6 separate regions of the Homo sapiens genome follow, and regions 1, 2, 3, 4 and 5 are each linked to region 6. Evidence: fine-mapped expression QTL. A gene starts in region 6. Each other region holds a variant in brackets. All regions are shown on one strand. Distances are between the middles of the regions. Region 1 overlaps PRUNE2 (prune homolog 2 with BCH domain). Region 2 overlaps PRUNE2 (prune homolog 2 with BCH domain). Region 3 overlaps PRUNE2 (prune homolog 2 with BCH domain). Region 4 overlaps PRUNE2 (prune homolog 2 with BCH domain). Region 5 overlaps PRUNE2 (prune homolog 2 with BCH domain). Region 6 holds the start of PRUNE2 (prune homolog 2 with BCH domain).

The links. PIP is the estimated chance that this variant, and not a neighbour inherited with it, causes the effect. A credible set is the group of variants that fine-mapping cannot tell apart.
Region 1: its variant is the best candidate, but not a certain one, in a credible set for the expression of PRUNE2 in testis (GTEx, PIP 0.86).
Region 2: its variant is the best candidate, but not a certain one, in a credible set for the expression of PRUNE2 in cerebellum (GTEx, PIP 0.54).
Region 3: its variant is the best candidate, but not a certain one, in a credible set for the expression of PRUNE2 in whole blood (INTERVAL, PIP 0.88).
Region 4: its variant is the best candidate, but not a certain one, in a credible set for the expression of PRUNE2 in T cells (GENCORD, PIP 0.51).
Region 5: its variant is the best candidate, but not a certain one, in a credible set for the expression of PRUNE2 in B cells (Fairfax 2012, PIP 0.63).

Annotation. Positions count from the first base shown.
Region 1 is chr9:76,664,445-76,668,533 of GRCh38, forward strand. The region is part of intron 9 of PRUNE2 (prune homolog 2 with BCH domain); the gene reads right to left. It overlaps LOC105376095 (a long non-coding RNA gene), which reads left to right. Exons shown (of 12, transcript XR_007061586.1): 12 at 1-95. Among named protein-coding and RNA genes, the nearest start is that of PCA3, 98 kb to the right of the region's middle. The variant G/C (reference allele first, on the strand shown) is at 2,265.
Region 2 is chr9:76,723,751-76,727,839 of GRCh38, forward strand. All of the region lies in intron 6 of PRUNE2 (prune homolog 2 with BCH domain), which reads right to left. Among named protein-coding and RNA genes, the nearest start is that of PCA3, 39 kb to the right of the region's middle. The variant G/A (reference allele first, on the strand shown) is at 2,235.
Region 3 is chr9:76,694,583-76,698,671 of GRCh38, forward strand. The region is part of intron 9 of PRUNE2 (prune homolog 2 with BCH domain); the gene reads right to left. Among named protein-coding and RNA genes, the nearest start is that of PCA3, 68 kb to the right of the region's middle. The variant C/T (reference allele first, on the strand shown) is at 2,394.
Region 4 is chr9:76,704,614-76,708,702 of GRCh38, forward strand. PRUNE2 (prune homolog 2 with BCH domain) reads right to left here. Exons shown (of 19, transcript NM_015225.3): 8 at 148-4,089. Among named protein-coding and RNA genes, the nearest start is that of PCA3, 58 kb to the right of the region's middle. The variant C/T (reference allele first, on the strand shown) is at 2,342.
Region 5 is chr9:76,634,552-76,638,640 of GRCh38, forward strand. It overlaps PRUNE2 (prune homolog 2 with BCH domain), which reads right to left. Exons shown (of 19, transcript NM_015225.3): 13 at 3,635-3,737; 14 at 2,867-2,998; 15 at 1,920-2,006. All of the region lies in intron 6 of LOC105376095 (a long non-coding RNA gene), which reads left to right. Among named protein-coding and RNA genes, the nearest start is that of PCA3, 130 kb to the right of the region's middle. The variant G/GTA (reference allele first, on the strand shown) is at 2,458.
Region 6 is chr9:76,903,875-76,907,963 of GRCh38, forward strand. PRUNE2 (prune homolog 2 with BCH domain) reads right to left here and starts at 2,240. Exons shown (of 19, transcript NM_015225.3): 1 at 2,054-2,240. The coding sequence starts at 2,089. RefSeq lists a silencer at 2,310-2,369.

The DNA.
Region 1 (4,089 bases), 240 kb before region 6:
CTTGAATTCCTATTACAAACACTGGGAAATAATCAATGTTTGTTGTTTTAAGCTGCTAAACTTTGATATTATTTATTTTATTCATTTATTTTTTGAGACAGGGTCTTGCTGTATTGCCCAGGCTGGAGCGCAATGGAGCGATCTCGGCTCACTCCAGTCTCCATCTCCTGCGTTCAAGTGATTCTCCTGCCTCAGCCTCCCGAGTAGCTGGGATTACAGACGTGCACCACCATGCCGAGCTAATTTTTAGGAGAGATGGGGTTTCACCATGTTGGTCAGGCTGGTCTCCAACTCCCAGGCTCAAGTGATCCTCCCACTTCGGCCTCCCAAAGTGCTGGGATTACAGGCATGAGCCATTGCACCTGGCCGAGATTATTTATTATACAGCAATAGCTAACTAATACATTCCTCATCCTAGTGAATGTCTCTACATATCACCTGGGCACTCAAGCTCCCAAACTGGCATTCACTCTTACTTTCTTTTCTTTCCCACCATTTCTTCCTCATCCAGTTGGCCATCCAATCCTATAAATTTATGTCATCCTCTCCACTCCATTCTCACTACAAAAGCCTTAGTTCAAGTTCATTTTTTTCATGCAGAAACATCACCACCTTTCTGTTTACGATCGTCATCCCTACCTCCTCCAAATTATAACTAATATCCTTCTTCATCTTAACCTTGACACCACCTTCTTGTGTTTAAATCCTTTCAATTCACCACTTCAGGGAAAGAATTTGGCTTCAGAGAAGGGCTCACAAGGCCCTCTTGACCTGGCCCCTAAGCCCAGACTCAAGCCTCCTTTCTCATTCCCCACTCCCCACTTAGCCTTGCCAATCTTGCTGTCCTGTACTACTCAGTGTGGACATCTCCATCCTGGAACCTCGCCTCCATCCCACAGAATCGGGATCTGGGACCTCACCTCCACCCCACAGAGTAAGGTCCTGGGACCTCACCTCCATCCCACAGAGTGGGGACCTGGGACCTCACCTCCTCCCCACAGAGTCGGGTCATGTCCCATAGCACCCTGTGCTTACCTCACGTGGATGCTGCCATGTTCCTATGATTTCCTGTTTGAAATGTGTCTGCCCCCACTCCTCCCCACTGCCACCCTCTCCACACACACATGAATCTCCTGGGGGACAAGCACACCCAGTGCTTAGCACAGGGCTCAGCACATGGTGGAGATGAATGAGTCACTATTGAACAACACAGATTTAGACACGTGAAGGTGCCCTGCCCTTTGGGTAAAGTGCTCCTCAGAATGTCTCACCACATAGTGAAACTTGACCATAAAAATTATCTTCCAGGCCAGGCGTGGTGGCTCACACCTGTAATCCCTGCACTTTGGGAGGCTGAGGTGGGCAGATCACCTGAGGTCAGGAGTTCGAGATCTGTGGGCGGCAAGCCACCTAGGTGCCAAGGCAAAAGACTGAGGGCACGAGCTGTTTCAGTATAATAAAATATATAAAACAACAAGAATTATACTAGATCTAGATCATAGACATGATTATATATGAATATCATTAATCATTAGTTCGTAGCAATTACTCTTTATTCCAATATTATAAGAATCTTCACTCTATAATCATAACCTAGGAAAAACCAGGCCATACAGTGATAGGAGCTGAGGGGACATAGTGAGAAGTGACCAGAAGACAAGAGTGTGAGCCTTCTGTTATGCCCGGACAGGGCCACCAGAGGGCTCCTTGGTCTAGCGGTAATGCCAGGGCCTTGGAAGACACCCGTTGCCAAGCGGACCGTGGTCTAGCGGTAGTGTCAGTGCCAAGGGAAAACACCCGCTACTTAGCAGACCTGGAAAGGGAGTCTCTCTTTCCCCGGGGAAGTTTAGAGAAGACTCTACTCCTCCACCTCTTGTGGAGGGCCTGACATCAGTCAGGCTTGCCCGCAGTTATCCGGAGGCCTAACCATCTCCCTGTGATGCTGTGCTTCATTGGCCACGCTCCTAGTCCGCTTTCATGTTCCATCCTGTACACCAGGCTCTGCCTTTTAGATAGCAGTAGCAAAATTAGTGAAAGTACTAAAAGTCTCTGATATGCAGAAATAATGGCGTAAGCTGTCCTCTCTCTCTCCCTCTCTCTCTGCCTTGGCTGCCAGGCAGGGAAGGGCCCCCTGTCCAGTGGACACGTGACTCATGTGACCTTGTCAATCATTGGAGATGACTCACACTCCTTATCCTGCCCCTTTTGCCTTGTATCCAATAAATAACAGTGCAGCCTTGCATTCAGGGCCACTACCAGTCTCC[G/C]CGTCTTGGTGGTAGTGGTCCCCCGGGCCCAGCTGTCTTTTCTTTTATCTCTTTGTCTTGTGTCTTTATTTCTGCAATCTCTCGTCTCCGCACACAGGGAGAAAAACCCACTGACCCTGTGGGGCTGGACCCTACAGAGATCAGCCTGACCAACATGGAGAAACCCTGTCTCTATTAAAAATACAAAATTAGCCGGCTGTGGTGGTGCATGCCTGTAATCCCGGGTACTTGGGAGGCTGAGAAAGGAGAATCACTTGAACCCAGGAAGCAGAGGTTGGGGTGAGCCAAGATCGCATCATTACACTCCAGCCTGGGCAACAAGAGCGAAACTCTGTCACAAAAAAAAAGAAAATTCTCTTCCAACAAATTCCTTTTGATAAGAAGTTTAGCTTTTGTCAAAACATAATTTAGAAATATAGGTGATGCTTATGGGAGTGTTTTACAAAGAAGTCATCACTGTGAACCCAATTAGGCAACGGTCACTCTCTGGTGTGGCACATATTGTGCTCTCTCCTCCAACAGTAAAAGCTCTTTGATAATATTAGGAGCAACTGGGAGTGAATTTGAAAGAATGAGGTTCTTCCGAAGGGAAGGGGGAAAAGTAGACCATTGTTTTTCTTCAGAATTGGAGACAATCTTCAATGCCAGGGATGCCAGCATCTGCAGGACGCCCAAGTGAGCAGCAGAACTGGCTGGGCTGGCAGCATAGGCTCCTGCCATCTGCAGCCCCCATTTCACCTGCTCAGCATCTCCTGGGATTTACACTTTGGGAAGACTGCCTGCCTGCCCCACCCTCCTGCCCATAAGATAAGCTCACAAAGGGTCCCCTTCCCCACAGTGCAATGCAAAGCTGCACTCTTGCAGTCTGACTTCCTGCCCCAAGTAGTTCAAGAGTGTGAAGTCATCCAAATGCCTTGGACAAGCTGGCACCAGAAATATGAACCACAGGAACACACATAGATAAGATATTCCTTCAACTGCTGCTCAGCAGTTATATTTGCTAATCTGCAGGACATGGGAGGGTTGCCTTTGACTTTTCTGGAGGTGGAATCAGCACAGTGTTTCTGGAAGGGCTAGATACTGAATATGTTGGGCTTTACATGCTCTACAGTTTCTGTGGCAACAACTGAGCTCTGTTGTCCTAGCACAAACGTAGCTATAGACAATATGTAAATGCATAGGTATGGCTGTGTTCCAATAAAACTTTATGGACAAAAATAGGTGGCTGACTGGATTGGGCTTGGTGGGTAGCGTAGGGGGAGGTTTGACAACCGCTGTCCTAGAGTCTAACAACTTAAATAACATTTCATTTTCTTAAAGTTGAATATATATTTAAAACTGTGAAGCTCTCATATTGGTGCAAGTGGTACACCCAAATGTGTTTCTATAAGGAATATAAATTGAGGTACAGTTTTTGGTTGTAGTCATCAAAATTTTAAATACACATAGCCTTTGACCAGCTGTTCTAAGAATATATAGTGCAGAATACTCACAGGTATATACCAAGATATATGTAAAAAGATGTTTACTGTAAAAATACAAAAACAAAACTGGAGGGTTTTCAAAAACAGTCTGAATTTGATGATCATGCAAACACGAAATAATTAAAAATTTCTCAGATCTCTGATTTTCCCAACTGTGCTATGCTGAATCTTCCTTCCCTACATCATGCTATCTTGTTACTTTCAATTACTAAAATCTAATCTAGTTTAAAACATCCAGTTTCTCATCTAAAAATTCTATCTCCTTCACTCTCCTACCTGGGCCAACCAAAGCTGTGCTTCAGGGAATTTGGGATAGGAAGGGTTCTCCCATTCCTCCTCTT
Region 2 (4,089 bases), 180 kb before region 6:
AAAATCACTGCTTTCTTGTCATGGAGCAAATATTTATTACCTCCTATAAGCATATCTTTCTTTTTTTTTTTTTTTGAGATGGAGTATCGCTCTGTCGCCCAGGCTGGGGTGCAGTGGTGCGATCTCGGCTCACTGCAAGCTCCGCCTTCTGGGTTCACGCCCTTCTCCTGCCTCAGCCTCCCGAGTAGCTGGGACTACAGGCGCCTGCTACCACGCTCGGCTAACTTTTTGTATTTTTAGTAGAGATGAGGTTTCACCATGGTCTCGATCTCCTGACCTTGTGATCTGCCCGCCTCAGCCTCCCAAAGTGCTGGGATTACAGGCGTGAGCCACCGCACCCGGCCAGCATATCATTAATGAAGGGAGAGAGAAAATGTTTGGGAGATAATTCATCTGAAAGCACAGGTTAAGAACTCCTTGAAATCAGGCTGGGTGCGGTGGCTCATGCTTATAATCGCAGCACTTTGGGAGGCTGAGGCGGGCAGATCACTTGAGCTCAGAAGGTCGAGACCAGCTTGGGCAACATGGTGAGACCTGTCTCTGATAGAAATACAAAAAAAAAAAAAAAAAAAAAATAGCCAGGCATGGTGGTGCATGCCTGTGGTCCCAGCTACTGGGGAGGCTGGGATGGGAGGATTGGTTGAGCCTGGGTGGGGGTGGAGGTTGCAGTGAGCGGAGATCCCATCACTGCACTCCAACCTGGGTGACAGAGCAAGACCCTGTCACACAGACACACACAAAAAGAACTTCTTGAAATGAAGTGGGCTGATTTCAGGCACACCTCAAATAAGGGAGTTAAAATTCTTTCCCATCTTTTTCCATCCCATCCTATCTTCCATAAAGAAGCACTGTTGTTACACAGACAGAGAGTTGGGCCTGGAATAAAAGTAGTCCCAGGCACTCTTACAAGCAGTTAATAATAGATTGAATACTTGAATGGGGGAGTTTCACAACCAATCAAAGACAAATAAGTCATCACCTCATTAACTAACAGCCTAATTTACATTTTCTTTAAGGACAGACCCATAATCAGGAAAACTTTCCTCTATTGGATGGACTTAAGTGCTTGGCAAGGAAAGGGCTAGACTGCTGTTTCCTTTAAGGGCCCCTTTTTGTTTCTGTATGTTTATAAGGATTTCTATACGGGAACGAATAATTCAGGACACACATGTAATGAAACCCCGCTCATTAGCCATGCTCTATTTTTGAAATGGTAGAACCTGGGCTACACTCTAGCTCCCAGATAAAAATAATAATAATGAATGATTTCTATAATTATGTATAGATTAAAAAAAAAGTCCCTGTTGGCTTGTTTTGAGCCATGAGCCTGAACACTGACAGCTTTATTTTCCTTTGTAAAAATAAATCATCTAGTTTGAACCCAATTTCAAGAAAGCAGGAAAACCTTTTTTCCTCTCTGGGTTCCCCTTTCTGATTTATGGAAACCACAAGGCAAGTCTCCAGAGCACTTTCTGCACGTGTGCATTGCACACACTTCTGATTTTTCTAAGCTGTGTCAATATTAACCTGACCAAATGAAGATCAAACTGTCTCTTTTGTTCCTCACGCTCCTTGCATGGGGAGCACAATATGGCTCTTGTCAGAGGTGCTTCATCATTTTGGCTCAATGAAAGTGTCAGTACAGTTTGGGATTCGTTCTTCATGGGCAGATATCCTGATGGGTCTAATGAAGCCTCTCTGCTGACAACTCATTTGCTAAAAATACCCAACCATCGCCAAGCTTAAGTGGGGAATATGGTTGTGCCCCCTTTGCTATCAACCCAATGAAAGTAATTAGTTTTTTTTGAAGTCTAAAAAAAAAATCTATCTATCAAGGCACACACCTTTCACCACCCATCTATGTGTTCTTGCTCATTTCCATTTGCTCACTGATAAACTTTATGACATTCTTAAATTGGCATATATAGGGTAAACACCAATCTTGGAGCACACATGCAGAGCCAGCAGTCTGTGTGTACCATTTGTTGCAGTCTAAGCTAATTACCAGAAACCCCCTCCTGAAAACAGATACACTCTGGGGTTTGTGGTTTTACTTTTGTTTGGAGATGGCTGTGTTTGAGAAGCTGGAGGAATCCCTCTTCAGGTAAGGATGCTGCTGTCATGACTGTCTCAGTCACAAGTCACAGAAACTTAACTGTAACTGATTTAAGTAGAGAAAGAAGTCAGCAGGATCTGGGGAGTGTTCCCACAGAAGCCAAGAAGAGCCTGAGCAC[G/A]CGCTGGGAGAAGGGCAGGGGTTGCCAGGGATATGCAGGTCGTCCTGCCTCTCCATCCTCTTCTGGCTGCATTCTGCTGTCCTGCAGCCAACTGGCATCCTCTACACGGTGGGAACCACAGGTGGCTGCAGCATCTCTGTGTAGACCTTGCCAAATGAGTCACGACTCCCTTTTGGTCATGAGTTTGAAAACCCTGGAGAAAGAACTCTGGTTGTTCCCACTTGGGTTCGGTGCCTATCTCTGGGCAAAACAATTGAGGTAGATTGGAAAGACCACAAATCACAGACACCACACCAGTTATAACAAAGTTGGTGGGTAAGAGTCACTTCCTAGAAGAGGGATGCTGAGCAGATAAGCCCATAGGTGGGCACTTTAGACATCAAGCACGAAGGTGTAACACGCATACACAGGCACACGCACATACATTCTAACACACACATGCACACTCATCAGATACTTTCCCAAAGCCCCATTTTAGTTCCAACCAACCAAGCCTAGTTGTAGGGAGAATCATGATGCTTGGAAAGATAAGTTTAGTGAGACAATTTAGTTAACTTTTATTTTCATGTTAATTTTTATTTTACGCTCCAATTAAGGAGGGTATTAAAAAGAGGAGTGATAAATCTATAAAAGCGTTAAGCTTAGAGAATGAAAATTATGCTGAATCAATTGAAAATACATTGTACTATTTAAACAATCCAGGAAAAAGCAGTCAAGCCTCCTTAATCTTTATTCTTTCAGGTCAACATGAGGGTGTTTCTCTTTTTGGCCCTTGAAGTCTTCAGAAGCTCAAATCTCCACTATAACTGTCAAACTTCCATTGCTATTAGTACCATCTATGAGGCATTAAAATGCTTTAAATACAAATTTGAAATGTTCTACAGGCCCAGCCTTCCAGGCAGAGAATACCTGGGCTCACTCTGGTGGAACAAGAGTAGTAATTTAATTGTCATTATTTTATACAAGAGTGATTTATAGAAGGGCTCTAAGCAAGCCAAATACAGAAAAAAACCTAAATTCGTAACAGATAAAAAGTAATAACTTTAGACCAGGGTTTCTCAACCTTGGCACTACTGACATTTGGGGCTGGACAGTTCTTTGCTGTGGGGGCTGTCTTGTACCTTATAGGGTGTTTATAGCATATCTGGCCTTGACCCACTAGATGCCAGTAGCAAGCTCCCTGCCCTAGTTATGACAACTAAATATGTCCCCTGTGGGGCAAAATCACCCCAGTTAAGAACCACTGCTTTAGAGAAAAACAGCAGGAGACTCTTAGGAGCTTACAAAATAATTCAAGTCACACTCAACTGTTTCAGAAATCTTACTACATAAAGCAAGACACATGGTTAATTCTGCCTGGTTTAACAGGCAGGAGAACTAGAAAAGTAAATCAGGGATGGGGAGCATCTACATGAATACTTTTTATTAATTGGCCAAATATTTCCTTTTTCGAAGCCAGTAAAAATAACATCTTTCCATCAATTGTCTTTTAGTTTAGATTGCTGTGCTTATAAATGAAACCAAGCTTCGATTCTCTTAAACAAAGAAAACAGCAGGATGGTTTAAAAGAGCCAAGATTTTATAAAACATCTACTTCCTATTCCAGGAAAATGAAGTTTACCCAGGTATTTTCCAGAGTTGTTTCTTTCTTCTTCTTCTTCTTTTTTTTTTTTTTTGTCAAGCAAAGTTGTACTATTATTCCAACTTAGTTATGGGTAAACAGGGCTTTTTTTTTTTTTTTTTTTTTTGAAACAGGGTCTCACTTTGTCACCCAGGCTGGAGTGCAGTGGGGTGATTTCGGTTCACTGTAACCTCTGCCCCCAGGTTCAAGTGATCCTTCCACCTCAGCCTCCCC
Region 3 (4,089 bases), 210 kb before region 6:
ACATTTTAAGTAATACTTCATTAAATGGAAATGTGGGACATAGGTTATCACCAGTAATACTCCTTTTTGTCTTGCAAGATGTTCTCACAGATTGTGCCAGGGCAAAACAGTCCTAACTCAGAGTATGCTGGGCATTTGAGGAAATGCATTATTTTATTCATTATACAAAGGCAGTTAAAAAAAATTTTTTTTAAATAAGAATTACTGCTTAACTGCAGTAAATAGCATTCTATTATGTTGAAAAAAAGGGCACGTAGATGTCAAATTCTCCAGTGGAGTTTTAGTTATTCTCTGAGAGCCTAATTAATACTTTTAAATTATTATTTAATAAATGGAAGTTTAAAAAATAAATATAAAAAGGTCTTTGAAGATTACATATTATCAACAGCTGCTTGAGTTGATGGTATAATAGATGACTAATTAAATAAAACCATGTTCCTCTCTAATAAAAAAAGTTATTATTATTATTATTTGAGATGGTCTCACTCGTTCACCTGGGCTGAAGTGCAGTGGTACAATCTCAGCCCACTGCGATCTCCATCTCCCAGGTTCAAGCAATTCTCCTGCCTCAGCCTCCCAAGTAGCTGGGATTACAGGTGTGTGCCACCACGCCTGGCTAATTTTTTTGTATTTTTAGAAGAGATGGGATTTCACCATGTTGGTCAGGCTGGTCTCGAACTCCTCACCTCACGTGATCTGCCCGACTCAGCCTTGCAAAGTGCTGGGATTACAGGCATAAGCCAGCGCGCCCAGCCAGGAGAAGTTATTTCAAGGTGAAGAGATTATAATACCCATGGTATAGGCAACAGATGACCAAGAAGGAAAATTGAACAGACACACCTATTTTCTCCCCATGAGGATGAGTGACTAACAAAACTCTAAGAAAACTGAAAGGCTGAAAGAATCTTGGAGGAACTGTAATGAACAAGAAAGGCATGGGAACACTGAAAATGGGTAACTATGGCCTCAAATTACAAAAGAAGGAAAAAGATGGATTTGGTAACTTGAGAAAAGAAAGATGCATATTCCTTCCAAACTAAAACTAGCACATCTCCCTTGGGAAAAGAAGCAACAAATGCCAGAAATTATCACAGTGTCATTAGAAGCAAATTATGTTGAGCAAACTACCCTTTCTTTTCTATTCATTCAATCAGGCCTATTTATGGGGTGTCTAACATGTGGCAGGTGCTATTCTAAGCAACAGGGGTACCGTGATGAACAAGACAAACCAAACTCCTGCTTTCTTGGGGGTTATACTCTCATAGGTGGAGACAGATGCAACAGAATCAATTAAATAAATAAGTAAATAGAAGATCTTTTCAGATGGAAAAAAAAAAGTAGTAGCAATAAAATAAGGCAGAGAGATGGAGCAGAGTTCTCGACACTGGCAGTGTTGACATTTGGGGCTGGATAACCCTGTGTGGCGGGGGGCACTCCTGTGCACTGTAGGATATGTAACTGCATCCCTGGCCTCTGCCCATTAGATGACAGCAGTACCCACCCCAGTTGTGACAACCAAAATGTCTCCGACGTCAGCAAGTATTCCCTGCTGGTTCAGAACCGGCAGCTTGGACTTCTACAAAGGGTTACCCAATCCTGCACTGACTTTTTGATAGCCTTTGTTCCTGAAGAACTCTTACATAGATCTCAGAAACTGATCCTCCAATGTACTGGAGAAACAGTTAACTAATCGTGCACAGGAACATCTCAGGACAGTTTTCAGAGGCTGAGGTCCACCACTCTCCAATTCGGCTAGCTGCACTGAACAGCTTCTGTTTGCTTCGTCAGCTCTACTCTCCTACTTTCTCCATTTTGCTTTCTGCCCCAAGCCTCCCTCACCCTCCGACTTCCACTAGGTTTTTTGTTTGTTTGTTTGTTTGTTATCCAGGCTGGAGTGCAATGGCATGATCTCGGCTCACTGCAACCTCCCCCACCCAGGTTCAAGTCATTCTCATGCCTCAGTCTCCCGAGTAGCTGGGACTACAGGTGCCCGCCACCACACCCAGCTAATTTTTGTATTTTTAGTAGAGACGGGGTTTCTCCATGTTGGCCAGGATGGTCTCAAACTCCTGACCTCAAGTGATCTGCCCGCCTTGGCCTCCCAAAATGCTGGGATTACAGGCATGAGGCGCCACGCCCAGCCTCCACTAGGTTTTGACCAGTGAGGATCCCTGGTGGGAGATGCGGGGGAAGAGGCGGGAGTGCCTCCCGCTGGCCGTGTCCCTCACACTAGGTCACTATGCCTTTCAGGGTGGCCTTTTCTACCTGAAATAGTCTTTCTGGGTTCTGGTCATCACTCTGTCTCCCCACTCCTGGGGTCTAGGAAGAATAACAGCCGTACTGCTCCTGTTCTTGGGCTACGCACTATTCCTTGTGAGTTCCTCACACTTTGC[C/T]TCCATCTTCGTAAATACTCTCTTTATTAAATCTCTCAAATTTTCCTAATTTGAATGTGTCATCACTTTCTTGCTGTGCCCCTGATATGCGAATATACCCTGCTTTCGAAAGTCATGGCTTCTTGTCTTCCTCAAATACCAGCAATTTTCATAGAGATTTTTTTCCCCCTAAAGCAAGCAATGCCACTAGTTGTGATGTTTCAAGTTTCCAGCCAGAGAAGCACCTTGGGTTTTTCCTCAAACTAGAAGCCAATACAACACAAATGGACTCCTTTGTGGGCGTTCCTCCCACGGGGAAACAGAGTTGCACCACCTCATCTTGGCACTTGTGGCTCTCTCTGGCTGTAAAATCCCTCACCACAAAATACCACACCTATAAATATTTGGAAAACGTAAATGAACATTGAGGGGCTTTGATGCTCTCCCTTCCCTCTGGCCTCCAACCACTCGAGTTGGTCCCACACACCACAGATGGGGAGCAGCCCACTGACATGGCACAAGCACTCACAGATCCACCGTGGGAGCAAATATTTACTCAGGTATCAAAAAAGCCCAGTAGGTCACAAGACAGTCTGAGGAGTCAGGCATGGGTTCTGGCTCAGTCTGTCTCAAAATATCTCCTGTTACACTTTATGTGCCTTTCAACGAGATAACGGGAGAACAGGAATGAAAACATCAACCTATAGAAGCAGCTCAAGAGAAATGCTTGTTTGGGCAGCTGTGTTTCATTGACAACCACTGGGCTAGACAGAGAAGACTTAAATTTAGGTCCTAACCTCACCACTTTCTCATTTCTGGATGACATGAAGCAGTTCATGTGTTAAGTCAGTTTGCTCATCTGGCTGGGAAATGGGGAGAGGAACACTTGCCCTGTCTATCTCAAGTGTCATTTGGGTGGACCAAAGAAAATAATCTATTTGTCAGTCTGCAAGCACTTACTATGGAAAGTCTGCTCTGGGTAGGGCTGGCCAGAAATGTAGAAGTGGGTGGAGGGCATGACAGAGAGAGAAAGCAAGAGAGAAGAAGGAAATGAAGGAAAGAGACTAAGTCCTGAATTAAACTGCAAATGTAAAGGATTTTTTTTTTTTTTTGACAAAGTTTTGGTCTTTCACCCAGGCTGGAATGAAGTGGTGTGATCTCGGCTCACTGCAACCTCCGCCTCCTGGGTTCAAGCGATTCTCTTGCCTCAGCCTCCCGAGTAGCTGGGATTACAGGCGTGTGCCACCATGCCTGGCTAATTTTTGTATTTTTAGTACAGACGGGGTTTTGCCGTGTTGGCTAGGCTGGTCTCAAACTCGTGACCTCAGGTGATCCACCCGCTTTGGCCTCCCGAAGTGCTGAGATTACAGGCGTGAGCCACCGTGCCCGGCAAAGGACTTTTAATGATACTTATCACCACCAACTCACCAACATACCACACCAACAGATCAAATATAATTACAAAAATAAATGAACACAGAGTCAGTGCTAAGTTTGTTCTTCCAGGTTTGGTACAGGGCAAAGCCCAAAAATGGTGAATAGGCAAGGGCGCACTGGAGTTTAGAGAGCATCAACTCACCTCTGAGAAACGGCAAATGTTCAGAACTGGGGTACAGCTTGGTCTGCCTGATGTTTCTCAGGGTTCCCATTATCCAACACTGAGAGAAAGAGTCAACTGATTTTTAAAATCTATTTCTCATTTTCAACATTCACGTGG
Region 4 (4,089 bases), 200 kb before region 6:
ATAATACAGGACTTAGTGAGGCATGCCTTGAAAATGTAGTTAGTTTTCTCTCTACCCTCATTGGTAGGAAGAGTGTGTCTTACAAATATGCACTAGTTTAATCAACGCAGCAGTTTCTTGGAAGTGGAAGAATGGAATGTTTCTTACCATTTGGTGGTCCTATGTCTCCACCTGCTGGTAAATCAGAATTATCTGTTTCTACTTCCCAGTCAACGTTTGATGGAGACAAAATGTTGGAGCCTGCTCCTACCGGCAAATAAACGGACTCAGGGTCTTCACGAATATGCAGCACAGCCAGCTGGGATCCAGGCAGTCTGTTTTTGGTCTCAGCCTGGTTTCCCTCACTTCTTCGATCAGGAAGTGCAGAAAGCACTATCTCTGCTGCTCTGCATCCCAGAGATTCATCCTCTGGAGACCCAGCTTCCTCTATTGTTTCAGCACTCTGGGCAGGTTCTGTGAGATAAGACAAATCAAAGGGAGGTGTGTACGGTGCCAGCGACTGCTTCAGAGAATCTTCCTCCAAAGGAGGGTCACCACCATACAGGAAGTGTTCAGGCTCTCTCAGTAAATCTTCATCGATATTCTGGCCCATTACATCATATTCAAAATCACCCCACGAGGCTTCAGATGAGCAGATATCTTGCTTCCCTAGGTCCCCATCAACTGGCGTTTCCGGATGGCCTTCGGATAATGTCAGTTTACTCATGTCATCTATTGTTCCCGTGGATGTGTTGAGACCTGAGGCATCGCTGAAACTGTGGTCAAAGGCAGCTTCGCTTATATCCAGACAAGTGTCTGAGGCTAGCAAAGCATCAGGAACCAAGGCAGGATTCTCTGTGGATAAATGTGGATCACCATCAAACAAAGCTCTTGCACCAGGCTGACTTTCAGGAGAAAAGCTGTCTGATATCCAAGAACCGTCACCTTCTGGAGTTGGCTCTTGGTGAGTTACAAAAATGCTAGTTGCCACATTTTCAATCCTTGGGATTCTTCTGTCAACTGGTTCCAAAATTGGTGCCATATCTGGGCTGGCTCCTTTTTCTGATACTTGTAAACCTGTACTGTTGTCACCGTTTATTTCAGAAGGTTCAGGTGAACCTTTATGAGAGGCGGGCTGAGAGGAGCCCTTTATGTCTGCTTGATAGCCAATTGGAGGCAGCACAGTTGCGTTTTCAGAATCGAGTTCTGCATTGGATGGGACAAACTCCCGTCCAGGCTCATAAATGGGTTCTTCATCTATCTCTGGCTCAGTGAGACAAAGCTCACTGGATTCCACTTCAGGTCCCATGCAAGCACTGAGGTGCTTCTCAGTCTCTTGCTTTGCTTCAGAATCGTGACATATATCAGGGCTGTCGGAAGCCTGAGAATTGCTGTCATGTTCGCAGTGCGTCAGGATATCAGGATTCTCACCATCTGCTTTCAAACTGAAGGGCTTCTTAGCATCTATCCACAAGTCAGGCGCGGCAGAGGCCAGCTGCCCACCCTCTTGAAAGTTGCCATGTAAAATATCTGGCACAAAGGTACCTCGGGAGTCCTCACTTGGGGTAGAGCCATCCCATTCAGAGCCTGGCTTCATTATCAGTTGGGTGGGAGAACTGACAGCAGGAAAATTTTCTGTGGCAATGCTTGAATTTGTCATCTCACCTAGGTATGATTTTTCTTGTTCCCACTGATTTGTTTCTTGACCTTCATTAGTTGAAACATTAGATGTAACACAACTATTTTCCTCTGCGTGAGTAAAGGCTGTGTCCGGATGATCACAGACTGGCAGCATGGTGTCCTGACACTGCTCTTGGGTAGGTGTTTCAGGAGTCAGCTCATCACCAGCAGCAGACACAAAGGTTTGCTCTCTTGAGTCCTTTTCTTTAATTTGGTCTAATTTTACAAGCTGGCTGAACTTGTCAGCATCTGGGTCTGGCTGCCTTGGTTGAATGTTCCAGAGTTGCTCATGGGAGTTCTTCCCATTACCTTCCAGAAAGGGTGACTGATGGTTGTCACTAAAAGGATTAGTATAGTGTGTTTCCACGGGCTCAATATCACCCTGAACTGGTACTCCCCAGGGACTGGCATTTTGGTGTACTGAAGAATTTATCTCCAACACACCACTGGAGTCAGACAGCTCCCTTTCAAATGGACTTTCAATTAGTCTCCCTTCCTGGGGTGAGGCCTTCCACCACTCAGTGCTATCAGCTGAGAAGCCCAGCATTTCCAGTTGAGAATTATCTTCGTTCTTTGGGAACGAAGCTTTGGGAGATATTTGCCATGCAACATCTCCTGTTGTCCCTGTTTCTGGAGAAGATCTCTTCTCCTTCTCCACTGCTGTAATCTGCATTTCAGTCTC[C/T]GTTAATGGTGAGAAAGTCCAGGGATCAGGGCTGCTTTGTTGATTGTCACAGAATGGGTTTGACTTATTCTCATTCTCTGCTGGCTCTGAGCTGTCTAGGTAGTCATAAATATTTTCAGACTTAGGATCAGCTGTGACCAAGAACTTATTAGATTCATTCAATGAATCCCAAGCTCTGGATTCATCCTCAGCAACGTGGCAGTTGGCCACCTGGATCTCTTCCTCTATTGACTCTTCACCACCGACACTGTCATCATCAGAACCTGAGCTTGTTGAAATGACCCTGGCATCCTCTGGCTGCACAGTTGCAGAAATGTCATGTTCATTTTTCTCCTGGTAGCTAGCAATTAGATTGCTTTCCTGATGTGTCCCTGAATGTTCAGAATATTTGCCTGTTTCAGGACTGGATAAAGAGGAAAAGGAATCACCATCAACTGAGTCATTCCAGATCTCTAAAAATGTAGGAGTTTTGCGATCAAAGCTCTTTTCAAACTCATTTATTCTGTTTTTCTCTAAATCCTTCACTTTGGTAACTATTTCTACTTGGCCATCAGTGGTAATTAGTTCAGATTCTTGGTGATTCTGTTCACTCCAGTTGCCTTGGTTTTCTTCTTGATACCCAGAACTGGGTTGCTGGCCCCAGGAGGACAGTGCAACTGAAGAGTCATTTAACTCAGGACTTGATGCACTTGAATGAGTATACTCACTAGAAATAGTATCTCTGTCAAAATTTCCAGACGAACCGGCTCCTGGAAGGCTATTTTCAGACCCCTTAACGTCAAGATTTTTGGTTATCTCAGAACATGTGCTGCTGACATGCACATCACTGTCTATAGGGACGTCCCCAAAATCAAGACTTCGGGGAACTCTGTGAGGTGGCCCTCCACCCACGTTCTCTGGCTCTAGAAAGTTACATTCTTCAGTTTTCTCAAGATCCTTTTCAGGTACAGATACATATTTTGTGAAATTCATCCCATCTGAAGTCTCAGTAGTTTCACCTGAATTTCTTTGACTCATGAGGTGTTTTTCATGGGTATCTTTTGGCTGCAGGTTATCTGCGGACATCCCTGTTTGCACATCACGGGAGTCTAGATTGTAAGACCCCTCCTCATACTCTAAAACTTCCTCTGGTTCCTCGGTTTGAGGACTGAAAGTGACAGCAAGAGAGCTGATTTTGCCTGATTTAATGCAGATTTCCTGATGTTCAGATGCAACCAGAGAAGACAGTTCCTGGTCACTCTGCCCTTTTTCAGAAATCCCTGAGGCATTCTCCACACCAGAGGCGATCACCTCCTCTTCATCAAGGTGCCCCCTGTCAGTGGCTCCCTGGGCTTCCTTCTCACTTTCACTTTGTCCATCGCCATGACCTTTCCATGGATCTGGGTGTGGAAAATACCCTGGATTCTCAAGCCTAGTCGCCAAGGATGCTGCATCACTTTGCAGGGTTTCCCTCTCTGTGTCCTGCTTGTCAAGATGAGATATAAGTGCCTCTGATTCACTGGTTCCAGAGGCTGCTGGCGCATCTGGGGAATGAGTGTCTTTAACATTTGCTGAATGGCTGGGGATTTCAGGAGGCAATTCCCTTTGCTCTGAATCTGTGATATGTGAGGAGCCTGGTAACATGAATGATGACATGTCTTTATCTCTCATGACAGAATCCCAAATACTGTTTGCAATTAGCTGCCCACTTTTCTCATTCAATGTGTGATGTTCACTGGGAGCACTGTCCTTGGTATGCTCATCAGAGG
Region 5 (4,089 bases), 270 kb before region 6:
CTTCATCACACTGTACCCAAATAAGATAACTGCTGAGCTGTACCCAATCAAGCTATTTCTATACATCACCTTGCTTTTCTCTGGACAAATACTGTCTGCCCACTTTGCTGGGAGGAGCTCTCTGAACCTCTCCTGGTTCTAAGTCATGCTGGATTCATAAATCATTTTTTGCTCTAATAAACTGATTGATTTGTCTAAAGTTTATCTTTTAACATTACTTAATCAAGAAAAAACATTTGTTTTATAAGTGCTGAATTATTAAGCAAACATCGATGAATCAGTAACTATGCTAATGTTTACCTTTCTACCCATTAAACTTTTTGAAAGCTTATCAGCATACATTGATTCCTACTCCCTAGTTACAACATTTCCTGAAAATATTAAAATAAGTGGCTCTTTGTATACCTTAAATAGGTCTAATATTTTTGTTTGTTTTTTGGAGGCACAGTCTCACTCTGTTGCCCAGGCTGGAGTGCAGTGGTGTGATCTTGCCTCACTGCAACCTCCTCCCAGGTTCAAGCGATTCTCCTGCCTCAGCCTCCCTAGTAGCTGGGACTATAGGCACACCACCACCATGCCTGGCTAATTTTTTGTGTTTTTAGTAGAGATGGGGTTTCACCATGTTGGCCAGGCTGGTCTCAAACTCCTGACCTCAAGTGATCTGCCCGCCTTGGCCTCCCAAACTGCTGGGATTACAGGTGTGAGCCACCCCGCTTGGCTGCTCATAATATTTTTAAAAGCAATTTAACACAGTATGGTAAACAGCTAATCTTTGCCAGAGGGAAACTAGGGTGAATCCTGCTACTCAATTGAAGATAAATTGAAATTTTCCCATCTTAAAATTATTAATTAATTTCGTCTAAAAATTCTGATAACTTCGTTTTTTCAGTGGTTTCTTCTTGTGTATAATGAAGATAATAACAGTATATCATGTGATTGTTTAGCCTTCAGTTTACCATTTTAACAATTCTTGATTTTCAGGTATATTTTTCAGCATTAGCAATTGGAAGTGGGGAATAAGAATAATAAATAAATATAACTAAATACTTAACAAGAAAGGTAGAATTTGGAAGCTACAGTAAAATCTATGTACACACAAAAAAAAGATTTTAAAGTTTATCTTTTTCCCCAGAAGCAAAGTTATCAGAATTTTTAAAAGAAATTCATTAATAACTTTGAGATGGGAAAATTTCAATTAATCTAATCTGTACCCTGATGGTGGGCAAATTTTATTGTTTTTAAAGCTATCTAGAAAGTAAATACTATCCCTTTCATTTAACTATTTGAAGTCTTACTATATTATGAACATAACTTATTTTACTTTGCATCCCTAAGATGTAAGGTTATGCAAAACCTAACATAAAATAAGTGACAAATAAATATTCACTGAATTGAAACCAAGACTCCTCAGGGGTGATCAAAACACAGCTCTCAAAATGGCTGCCCAGACTCTATATAACTTTGGTAGTTATATAAACGTTGTGTAGGTCTATTCAGAAGAAATGGCACAATTGAGACATGATATGGCTTCTGTTTCTGCCCTTGATTCATCTTTACTTTCCATTGTCATATTACTCTACCTTTCTATTCTCTACATAATAGCATATCACTTTAAATGTATTATCTATTCTCCTTTCTAATGTGGCATGAAAATCCCACCACTTCATCTTCCGTGTTTATAGCAAGCAATTTAGAGGTCCTGTTTTATAATGATCTGGGGGAAATATTCATCATGACAGCATTTTCTCTCTTAATTCGGGATTCTTGATGAATAGTCCAAAGCACCTTTCTAGGAAAGACAGAGACAAATATATTTCCCTGGGTACTCTTAGTTTATGAATTCTTGTTTTTAGGACAATGAGTACATATTTTTTAAAACTACTAGTAGTACTTTTATTTTATGACAACATTAACTGTACCTTATAAAAGGTCGTGTCACAGCAAGGATTGTTCTGATGAACCAAGATGGATGAACAATGATGAATGATTTCAAATTCTTCCTCAACCTATTTTGAAAAAAGAAAAAAAATACATTACTCTTAACCCATTTTCAGTGGGAATTAAAACATAAAACATATTCCTAAATAAGAATATATATAATTTAAGTCTGGCATGGTAGCTCATGCCTATAATCCCAGCACTTTGGGAGGCCAAGGCAGGCAGATCACCTGAGGTCAGGAGTTTGAGACTGGCCTGGCCAACATGTTGAAACCCCATCTCTACTAAAAATAAAAATAAAAATAAAAATAAAAAAATTAGCTGGGCGTGGTGGTGCCCGCCTGTAAGTCCTGGCTACTCAGTGGGTTAGACAGGAGAATCGCTTGAACCCAGGAGGCGGAGGTTGCCGTGATCCAAGATCATGCCACTGCACTCCAGCCTAGGCAACAGAGTGAGACTCCAACAACAACGACAACAACAAAAATGTGTGTGTGTGTGTGTGTGTGTGTGTGTGTGTGT[G/GTA]TATAATTTTAGGGAGTTCTATGCAAGTTACTATTACCTGGTAGGAAGATATAGAATGGCCATGATTAATTACAAGAATGCTTTTTGAGATGTAATTTGAAACTTGTATGATTCAAACGTCATTTTCTCATAGAAGTAAATGTAAAATAGAATGGTTGTGTTCTTAGAGTGCATGAATCTATAACCAACATGGTGTATTTTTGTTTAATGATGCTTTTATTCTCGTCAGTATTACCTTTACTATTTTGAAAAGAATACATGCTTAATAGCAACTTAGACAATTTATTTGATCTTATTGAGACTTGGTTTCTTCTTGTGTATAATGAAGATAATAACAGTATACCATGTGGTTGTTTAGTCTTCAGTTTACCAAAATCAAAATAGTGATTAAATAATAGAGCCCACATACCGTCTGTCAATCATCTGGTAGCATTTCTTCATCCAGCCTAGCCCTGGCATCCTCCTTCTTGGGGTTGCACCATTCAAGTACACAATCATATAGTCTTCAGCTACCATCAACTCTAAAGTACTTATTACATATCTGATCACAGGAAGGAAGAGGAATGTTTTCAGTTCCCACATCCTATTGACACCATAATTACATAACATCAAAAGTACAGGGTGTATGAAATTTAAGAATGATTGTGCATATTACCTCTTTACCTTGGGAAGAATACAATTACCTAAGAGCATTCCTCTGAGAGTATTACTCATTTATCGGTATGGCTATCTATCTTTTAAATGGAGGTACACTAGAAAAATGTATGGGTTAGAAAGAATCCTGACTTTCAAAACTGTCAACAATGTTATCAAATACTAAGGGTAACTCAGGTTAAATAAGGGCAGATATTAATGAAGTCAGGTTATAGTCAGTCTTAGCTGACTAAGAACATGTTATGAAGGAACAAAAATAATACTTTGCCCAAAGGAAATGTTACAGAATTTTAAAATGCAAGCAAAATTCTGTTCATCTTGGTTTCAGTCTAGTCTACCCACAAAAGAGCTCCTTTAAAGGTTTTAGCCCCTTGAGCAACATTCCTTGACAGAAACCTTACTGACTTTTCACTGAAGGCTTAGAACATTCTACATCATCTATTTTCTTTAATTAAAGGTGCTCTATCTGCCATTACATGCCACAGACATTAACTCAAAGCACTTTGTCATAAGTATCACTCACAGGAAAAGATTTTCCATGACATAGTGGTAATCCGCCCGACTGCTGTCTGGCAGAAAACAGGCGGCAAACACAATGATGGCATTTAGACCGTCCCCATAGTATCCTGGGGGACAAACAAAAAGACACTTGTAACCAATTGAAAGCTCTTAACAAGGTAATATCTGACCTAATGGATAAATATGAAGCCTTGGCAAGTGTGTCTTTGTGGGTATATTAGCAGCATGAAATGGGGATTATGTTGACTATAGGTCTGTAGGTATATACCCATATAGTTATCTTTCAGTGGTTAACATCTATGTTTTATAGAGTGTTAAATATATAGGGCAATTATATTTGCATATGTAGGCTATTTATATATTACGGATGATTATATTGTTGTACATAGTTGTGAAGAGGGTGTGTAAATATTCGACATCACAAAAAAATGAGAGGGGGCAAGACTGACCTAAATGTCA
Region 6 (4,089 bases):
ACCACACCCGGCCAAATCTTACCTTTTTATTATAAATAAATTTCCCACAAGTGAATGACATTGACTTAATTCTTTTTCTCCAAGAAAAAGGTTATCTACCCTCTAAAGGAGAATGTTATCTACTACTATATTTGAGTGTCATACATTAAGTAAAAATCTTATTACCTAGAAAATGTAACTTCTCAGGAAAATATGACACTAAAAGTGACCAACACACCTTTGCTGTGGCTGGATGTGAAAGGTTAATCATGATTTCTAGAAGAAGCTTATTCCAAGAAACGATAAAATTAGCAGTAATTGTTCTGGCTAAGACATGAAACTGGTAACAATATTTCAAACAACCGCTTCTCTTTCCTGTCCTTTTTTTTTTAATGATGTAGAGCAATTGCTCGTCTAATGAAGGGTAAATAAATTACAGATTACTTTCAACTCATTACTCGGAAATAGGGAAACTTCCATTCCAGCAACTGCTCCTCAGAATTGAGACAAACCTCTTGCTCATATCAGACCCCACAGTCTAAATGTTTATTGTGAAAATATTGATAAATAAATGTTATGGGAGTGAAAAACAGATACAGCCCAGAACTCTGTGTTTGTCATTGATTACCATTTTCATACACACACACGCACAGTTGCCAAAATTGTCTTTCATTTTTGAACATTTCTCCTTCATTACTAGGTAAAGAACAGAACATGTACTTATACTATCAGAAATGCCAAATACTTACTTGAGTTTCTGAAATTAGTATTTTCATCCATGTGCTCTAGTAAAACTATAAAAGGGTCAATAAACACAGAGATGATCACAAACTTCCTCAACTCGGAAATCTCCACAAACGTTCAACTCTCTGGGAGGTTTCAGGTAGAAAGTTTTATATAAGCACTTATCAACTTTAATGGTCTTTTACAAGATAGTTACAGTTAGACCATTGTAAGGATCACACTTCCGTCTGCACTCTGAATGGTGGTTCAGGCATCTTTGGGCCCTCCCTTCCTGCACTCCCTTTGTTGTGCGAGGGTAAATGAGTTACAGTAATAACCCTGCAAATATCCTGCCTTGTGATTAAAACATTACCTTAATGCAGACTTTACATTTTGGCTTCTATGAAGGCTTAAAGGTTAAAGGCATCATAAATTATGCATTTCTTTCTATGCCAGGCCTGTAAAAGGTGCTTTTACAGTTCTTTAAAGATATTGCTTCTAAATGAGTACAGGCTTTTCTTTTTTTTTCTGCCAAAACAGAAACATTTCCATTATGTTTATTACTGCTGTGCTGGAGAGCCAAAACAGTTTGGAATTAAGAAACTGCTAGAGTCTGTTGTTTCAGAATGTGTAGCAACTGTTAACATACACAGTGGAGTTGCCCATTCACTGTTTGGACAGTGATATGGTAAACATGGGCTAACACACAGGTCTGCTCCCGGGAGAACGATGATCTGGTAAACTCCAGAACACCAACAGTTAGAGCTTTCCCCTTCTGCCTCCGCCCCAATTTACAGATGTGAACAGGAATTAGCGAGACACAAGACACACTAGAATATCCCTAACTCCTGCAGTGGAGCAAGCTCTATTCTGTGGATTCTCCAGTACCACACATGTCCTTGCTACCCAGCACCCTGACTTCCTCACTTTTGTCACCTCCAGCTGAAGTACAGTTCTAAGGGTCTCTTTTTTTCCTTTTACACTTACACGTAATGCATCTGCAGAAGGCTGGGCTCTTTATCTCAAGGAAGACCACACCCATTTATCCCTTAGCTTTCAGGAGCAAACTGCTGATTTAGGGACCGAAGCTGGACTGAAGCGACCCAACTTCAGCCAGGCCACAACCTCCTTCAGCTCTGCACCTCGTCTGGTTGCGGTGGAGGATTCTGGAGACAGATTGCCAGCTTTAAGAGCCAGAGTTCCTGAGATTTCTTCCAGGAGACAACCCGCACACCCTGATAACTCCGTGGCAAAGTTGTTTCTTCCTCCTCTGCTGCAACACCTTTTCCTCTCCACCTTTCCATTAGCATACGCGCGCGCGCACACACACAGCTTTGCTCACTCAACTTACCAGTTTAGATTTGGCGCGTTGCAAAAATTCTTCCATGTCGTGGCTAGGGGTTTGGAACCCGGGTACTCGGAGGGGCGCAGTGGAAAATCTCGGCCCAAGGAAGACGAGCGGGGTCCCGGGAAAGTGGCCCGCCGGGGCGCAGCGACCGACTGCTCCCTCCTGCCGCTCTGAGGCGGCTGCGGCGGAGGCTGTGCTTGCGCCCTCGACCGTCTCGCCCAGGGCTCCCCGCCCCACCCCTCGCCCGGCCGCCGGCTCTGGGCACCCGACTCTGCCCTAATAAGGAAAGTGGGTGTGCCGCCCAGGAGCCCCGGGGCGCGCCGGGCACGCTCTCTGGCACGCGCCTCGGGCGCCGTGGCGCGTGGGCGGAGGTGCAGGGGTATGGCGAGGGGCTCCTCCGCCAATCGCAGGGCCGTGCTGCGGCCTCCTGACGTGGCGCGCCGAAAGCTGCTGCAACCATGGACAGCGCCCAGAAGTGCGAGCCAAGTGCAAGGGGCTGCTGCAGAGGGAGGCTCTGCCGCAGGCACCGCCGCGGTCAGCGGGGGAAGGTGGGAAGAGGGAGACGGGTCCCAGGAGAGCCCCCGCCTCGCCCAGCGCCTCACTGGCTGGCTGGCGCGTTACGGAGCACTCCGGCGGTCACTTAATGATCTGGTCGGCTGGCCTGGCCGGGGGAGGCACTCAGCTAGATTGGCGTGGGAGGGACGAGGAGAGAAAGAGGGGAGTTACTGCTGAGCTAAAAGCAGTACGACCTTGATGGATAATAATCAGAAGAGCAGGCTAGGAGGTTGGGCGAGGCTGCGTCTTTCCTCCCTACCATGAAAACATGTCCACACAACAATGGGCATCCACAGTTCACCCCAACTAGGTGCCCTTATGTCAGCCCTGGGACTAATGCATAGATACATCCTTCTGCAGTTCCCATCCACTGACATGTACCCTCAGGGAAAGCTGGGGCAATAGAACCTTGCTAAGGTGAGGTGCAGTCTGCAGACCGGCAACATCAGCATCGCTGATCTTATAGAAATGCAGAACCTCAGTCCCCTGCTCCTACTTACCAAATCAGAATCTGTGTGTTTCTATGAGACCCTCAGATGATTTCTATGCTTGTTAAAGTTTAAGAAGTACTACAATGAACAAATGAACTTATATCTACAAACCTTATTTTAAATCATGGGGTTTTGTTGTATGTAGCCTTGTCCGGTCCCCAAACACACTACATCAGGCTTTCTCTGACCTCTGGGCTTTTGCACACCACCTGTAAGATCCTTCCAGCCCTTGTCCTAGCCCCCAGCCTCAGCTGTTCTACAGAAGTAGCCTCAACCCTGACTGCACAGTAAAATCACATCGTAATCACCTGAGACTTGAGAAAGTACTGATACCAGGGCTTTATCCCAGTCCAATTAAATTAATATCTCTGGGCATGGGGCCACAGCATTTCTGTGGAAAGTGACCCAAGTGATTCTAATGTGCAGTTCAGGTGTGATGCTCTGATTCTCGATGAACTTTACATGTATCTAAATCACTTAGAGGGCTTGATGAAACACAGATTTCCGTGCCCCATCCTTAGAATTTTAGCCCTAATAGGTGTGGCTTAATGGGCCTGAGAATGTCCATGTATACAATCTCCCAGGGTTTGCCGATGCTGCTGATCCAAAAACCACACTTTGACAGTGAGTGGCGTAGAAGTTCTCTTTCTCCAGAAAGCCTCCCCAACACACTTTTCCCTTCCCATCCCCAGACTGAGTTGGTTGCCCCTTCTGTATTCCCTCATAGCAACTTACATTTTCCACTCTGCTATAAATTGCATAATTATTTGTCTATGTCCTCCACCAGGCTGTGAGCTCTGTAAAGACAGGGACCTTGCCTGTCTCATTCACTGATGGAACCCTAACATGATGTATGTTCATGTCATATACAGGTCCTCAATAAATATGTTTTAATGAAAAAAGGTACATATGGAAGGGTTTTTTTTTTTTTTGCTCTATTTCTCCTGTCTCAATGTGTGTCTGTTTTCTTGTCTGTCTCTGTGTGTATATGTG